Regions from separate parts of the Homo sapiens genome. Here region 1 is linked to region 2. The links come from fine-mapping of genetic effects on gene expression. A gene starts in region 2. The other region holds a variant in brackets. All regions are shown on one strand. Distances are between the middles of the regions.

The links. PIP is the estimated chance that this variant, and not a neighbour inherited with it, causes the effect. A credible set is the group of variants that fine-mapping cannot tell apart.
Region 1: its variant is the best candidate, but not a certain one, in a credible set for the expression of ARHGEF3 in whole blood (INTERVAL, PIP 0.89).

What each region holds. Positions count from the first base shown.
Region 1 is chr3:56,766,145-56,769,055 of GRCh38, reverse strand. The region is part of intron 2 of ARHGEF3 (Rho guanine nucleotide exchange factor 3); the gene reads left to right. Among named protein-coding and RNA genes, the nearest start is that of ARHGEF3, 34 kb to the left of the region's middle. The variant C/T (reference allele first, on the strand shown) is at 1,615.
Region 2 is chr3:56,800,461-56,803,371 of GRCh38, reverse strand. It overlaps ARHGEF3 (Rho guanine nucleotide exchange factor 3), which reads left to right and starts at 1,423. Exons shown (of 10, transcript NM_019555.3): 1 at 1,423-1,669. The coding sequence starts at 1,574. RefSeq lists a silencer at 1,254-1,423.

The sequences.
Region 1 (2,911 bases), 34 kb after region 2:
GTCTTCCAACTCCAAAACAATCCATTAATAGTTTACCAGTTTCCCTCTAGCACTATTCTAGGCATAGGTGCAGAGCTCACGTACTCTGAGCCTAGTTTTGGGTTCCTCACAGTCTATTCAGCCTTATCTCTGTCTGGGTGATCTGCTCACTTTTAGGTTAAAGCCTCCCACAGTGACTGTGGATGATCAGTTTCTCTTGCATCTCTGTCAGTCTCAGCCTCACACATTTCCAAGCTATGCAGTTAGGTGCACAAATGTTCATATTTGTCACCATTACAGCCTCCTGGGGGAGTTGCACCTTTTATTAGGATTAAATATTCCTGTTTATTTCCTTTAACGCTTTTTGCCTTGGATTTTGTCGTCATCTTCTTCTTTTTTTTTTTTTTTTGCATTTTGCTTAATGTGTTTTATTCCATCTCTATTTTCCTCCTCCCTTTGTTATTTGGCTGGGCAAGGAGTTTTTATCTAGCTTAGGGGGGAGTATTATGTCACAGTTATTCTTGGAAAATATTATCTTTATGGGCTGAGTATATATTATTCTACATAACCAGTCTCCTATTAACACATATTTAGGCTGTGAATATTTTTATATTAAATAACTCTATGTTGAATCTTTTTAATGCATTTGTCCTTTTTTTTTTAAATTACCTTCTATTGTGCTTTGTTTTCTGATAATATAACATCATTTAAATATTGAGGCCGGGTGTAGTGGCTCACACCTGTAATCTCAGCACTTTGAGAGGCTGAAGCGGGTGGATCACCAGAGGTCAGGAGTTCGAGACCAACCTGGCCAACATGGCGAAACCCTGTCTCTACTAAAAATACAAAAAATTAGCCGGGCGTGGTGGCACACGCCTGTAATCCTAGCTACTCTGGAGGCTGAGGCAGGCAGAATTGCTTGAACCCAGAAGGCAGAGGTCACAGCGAGCAGAGATTGCGCCACTGTACTCCAGCCTGGGTGACAGACTGAGACTATGTCTCAAAAATATATATATATATTGAGGCTGGGGCTGGGCATGGTGGCTCACGCATGTAATCCCAGCACTTTGGGAAGCCGGGGCAGGTGGATCGCTTGAGGTCAGGAGTTTGAGACCAGCCTGGCCAACATGGTGAAACCCCGTCTCTACCAAAAAACACGAAAATTAGCTGGGCGTAGTGGTGCATACCTGTTGTCCCAGCTACTTGGGAGGCTGAGGTGGGAGGATCACTTGAACCCAGGAGGTGGAGGTTGCAGTGAGCTGAGATCATGCCACTGCACTCCAGCCTAGGCAACAGAGTGAGACTGTCTCAAAATAAATAAATAAATAAATAAATACTGAAAAATATAGTGAAGCACATAAAAGAGAATAAAAGTCACTTGTAATCCTACTTCCCATCACCAAAAAACTTCCATTAATATTTTGGTACATACTCAGGCAATCTTACCTTTTACTATACTTGCATGTGCATTTTTTTTTTTTTTTTTTTTTTTTGAGACGGAGTCTCGCTTTGTTGCCCAGGCTGGAGTGCAGTGGCGCAATCTCAGCTCACTGCAAGCTCTGCCTCCCGGGTTCAAGCCATTCTCCTGTCTCGGCCTCCCCAGTAGCTGGGACTATAGGCGCCCGCCACCACGCC[C/T]GGCTAATTTTTTAATATTTTTTAGTAGAGACGGGGTTTCACCATGTTAGCCAGGATGGCCTCAATCTCCTGACCTCATGATCTGCCCGCCTCAGCCTCCCAAAGTGCTGGGATTACAGGCGTGAGCCACCGCGCCCGGCCGCATGTGCATTTTTTAAAACAAAATGACTATCACACTGTATATGCTATTTTTTTACTCCCTTTGGTCTTAACGGTATAAAATAACTCTACAATAGAAGAGTATTTTTCATGTCGTTAAGTAGTTTTCAAAGACTTGATTTTTTTTTTTTTTTAATAGAGACAAAAATCTCCCTATGTTGCCCAGACTGGTCTCAAACTCCTGGCCTCAAGCAGTCCTACCACCCTGGCCTCCCAAAGTGCTGGGATTATAGGCATGAGCTACCACACCTCGCCACAGACCTGATTCTTAATGGACTCATAAAGCATTTCATCAAAAGAATGTACAGTTGAGTTAATCACTCTCCTGTTGTTGAACATTTGTTTCTGTTTTTTCATCATTATAGATAACAGTGCTTTCAACATCCTGATCATGTGTATGTCTGTATTTCTTTCTTTCCTTTGATTATACTCCTAGAAATGGAATTCTGGTCAAAGGGTGTGAATACTAAAGGCCGTTGATACGGCAAGGCTTCTGTTCTTGATGTGTGTCAGTTTTGGATAGAATTGCTTCTCTGTTTTCACATCTAAATCTAGACTTCTTACATTTCTCCTTCTCTTTTGCTACAGTTTTTCTCTTTGCTGTGATATCCCTCAAGATAGCTCTTCCCAGGGGTCCCTTGGGTTTTCCATGCAAGCCAAGGTGGTGTCTTACTTATCTCTGTATCCACAGTGCCTAATACTACACATTACTTAGGATGTGCTCAAAAATTAGTACTTGCTATTATTATCACCGTTATGACTAGAAAAGGCAGCCATTGCTGCTCCTAAGCTCTCTGCAGAGCCTGGCAGTGGCTGCCAGTGATGGGGCCCTGCCCATCTTCTTCAACTGGGCTGAAGGAGAATATGTGTCCCCTCCCCCAGTTGTAGCCCCTCCAGGAAGTATTGCTATGGCAAAGAAGGGTTTCTAGCAACCACTGCCTCTCATTGCTCCATCCTCTGGCCCTTAGATCAGGGAGTTATTTTATTCAACCCAGATGCAGCATGAACATATGATAAATTAGTGGTCTCCATTAATGTTATTTGGATCTACTGTGTTATTTATTCTGCCTAGACTTAATGGGGAGAGAGTCAATACAGAAAGGTAGGTAGTCCTGCTCTAGAGATTGTAAAAGTTCTA
Region 2 (2,911 bases):
TGCCTCCCAGGCTCAAGTGATCCTCCCACCTCAGCCTCTGGAGTAGTTGGGATTACAGGTGTGCACCACCATCCCTGGCTAATTTTTTGTATTTTTTTTGTAGACACAGGGTTTCACTGCTGCCCAGGCTGTATTTTTCTTATAAAAAATTTTAAAACATGAGCTATAAGCTTAAGTCCCTTTTGTTCACTATCTTTAATTCTTTAAACCCAGGTGCCTCCCTTCAGCCACAGGGGAACTGGTAAAAGCTTGCTGTGGATTCTTGTAGACAGTGTTCAATGCTATTTACCCACAAATATGTCTTTATAGAAAATATATGATATTCTTTGGTAAACTTGTATTTTTTTTTAACACAAATGGTATTGTATTATGCTTAGTCTGCAATTATTTTTAAACTGAGTCTAATACATTGGAGATCTTTCCATGCCACACCCATAGACCCATCTCCTTTTTCACTGCTGCTAAGCGGTATTACACAGTGAAGAAAGTTTATTTAAGCACTCCCTATTGATGGATATATTACCATTGTTTCCAGTTATTTTTTATTTTTTACTGCCCCAGACAGGGCTGCTGCAAACAACCTTAAGATCAATCGCCTTCTTGGGCATTTATAATGTCATTGTTTCTCCAAAAAGGATCCAGAAAGGTGTGGTAGTGCCAGGTCATCCATGCACAGCTTTATACTTGAAGGACACTCTGTCAGATTGCCCTCGAGTGTCAGGCAGCCTCTGAATATGCTAGTCAAATTTAAAAGTTGGTGCAAAGTGGGAAAGGTCTCGAGGGAATTTTCCGGGGGTGGTGGAAATGTTTCGTATACCGACTGTGGAGGTGGTTATACGGGTGTTTACATTTGTCAGAACTCAACAAACGGTACTCTTAAAATGGGTGCATTTTGCCATTTGTAGATTATATTCCACTGACATTCATTTAAAAAACCAAACAAAAACAAAACAAAACAAAAAAAACGTGCAGTGGCCTGGGAACAGGGTAAGAGAGAACACCACCCCTTTCTAATGTGGGCTTTTAAAACGCTCGCTTTTCCCCCCAGGCTCCTTCCTGCCTCCAGGTGTCACTACAGCCTCCTTTCTCCCCGTTGCCCGGTTTCGCCCCAGCCTCCTTTCTACCAGCAGCCTTTCACCCGGAGAGTGCCAAAGAGCCCGAAAGGAGCTATCATGGGGTCTGCCTGCCCCGCAATCGCGGCCCACGCTCTGCGGGGGCGCCCGGAGTCGAATACCAGCGGGGAGAGAGAGGTCCCTCTCCACCCGCGGGACCGCCCCACGCCCCTCGCAGCCCCAGGAGGTGTCCGCGCTGCGGCACGTGGGCCCTCCCGGCAGCGTGGGGCGGTGCCGAGCCGGCGGCCCGCCCCCTCCCCACCCATCAAGGCGTGGCTGGCACGGTCCCGCCCACTCGGCTCCGGAGCCCAGTCGAGTCCTGCCCGGCTAGAAGCCGGCTGTCGGTCTCCGTGTCGCCGCCGCCGCCCGGCATCGTGGAGCTGGGGCCCCCTTTTGCCTGGGAGTTTTGTAGTCGCCTAGGGTCAGCGGTGACATCCCAAAGGGCAGGCCCGGCAGCCGCCATGGTGGCCAAGGATTACCCCTTCTACCTCACGGTCAAGAGAGCGAACTGCAGCCTGGAGCTACCCCCGGCCAGCGGTCCGGCCAAGGACGCTGAGGTAGGGCCGCGCCCTGCACCTGGACCTCTATGGGTCATCTGCCTGTCTCGTCTGCCTCCATCTCCCATTCTCGGCGCCCGTCCAGTGTCACTGTCTCTGTTTCCATCTCTCACTCTCCGTGTGTGCCACTTTCTCTCTCTACATCTCTCCCACAGTCTTCTTTGTGTCTCCCCGTCGCCATCTCTCACCCTGTCTCCTTTTCTCTCGCTTTTTCTCTGTGGACCAAGCACTAGCTGCCTCCTCTCTCCCTGTCCCTCTACCTGCCGGTCTGGGAGCAACTGCCTCCTTGCCTTTGCAGGGCTCTCAGACTGTCCATCTTCTGTCTGGACTCTCAGAGGGACTTTCTCCTACTGTCAGCAAGCCCCAGTGTCAGGGAAGTGTCAGCAAGCCCCAGTGTCGCTACCCTTTAAGCGAGTTTTTTTTGCCTGGGTTGTGAGAGCAGAGGGACGTACCAGCCCTCTCACCTGTCAGACTTGGCCTTGCAGCCCTTTGGCAGCAAAAACAGGACACAGCGCCTCTGCCTATCACCTGTGGCCAGTGAGGGTCATTCAGCCGGGGGGCTGGGGCTAAATGAGTAAATTGGAGTGTCTCCCACATGGATCTTGAAAATGAATTAAAGTCCTTAGGGTCAATGGAAAGCTGCCTTGGAACATTGGAAACATTTCTCTTTCTGGGAACTTTCCTGTGCCTTGCGGGCGATGTGAAGGAGTGCTCCCAGGTTATGTTTAGTCTGCCTTTTCCTCTTGCGTGTTATTTCTCTGGCACATAGCTCACTGGCCTTAAAGGTTGGGTTCAGCTGGAGGAGAAAGCATCCCTCTCTTTGAGGGTCTTAGGGAATACAGTCGCTTTCGCTAGATTACAGCTTTGCTGTGGTCAAGCTGCGGTGGAACCCACAGGACCCAGCTAGTCATTGCCGCTCATGCGTGTATCTGGGAGCTTTCCACTCTCCCACACCTCACTCTGCGAACATCAAACATCACCACCACCACTGGGGAAAGGCTGAAGGCAGGTGTGCATCCGGCCTTGTCACAGCATTCTTGAGGTTCCACCCACTCGCCTTCCTTGGGTCTGCTCAGCTGTATGCACTTGGCTCACTGAATCATGTATATTCGGGAGCACACCATCAAAGATTCATTTCCTCTAGCAAGAGCTGCTCCAGGCTGACAGGACTCCAAGCAGTCTCTGGTTGTATTCAGCTTTCTATACGCTGAGCACAAACTAACTTCTCCCTCACTCAAACCC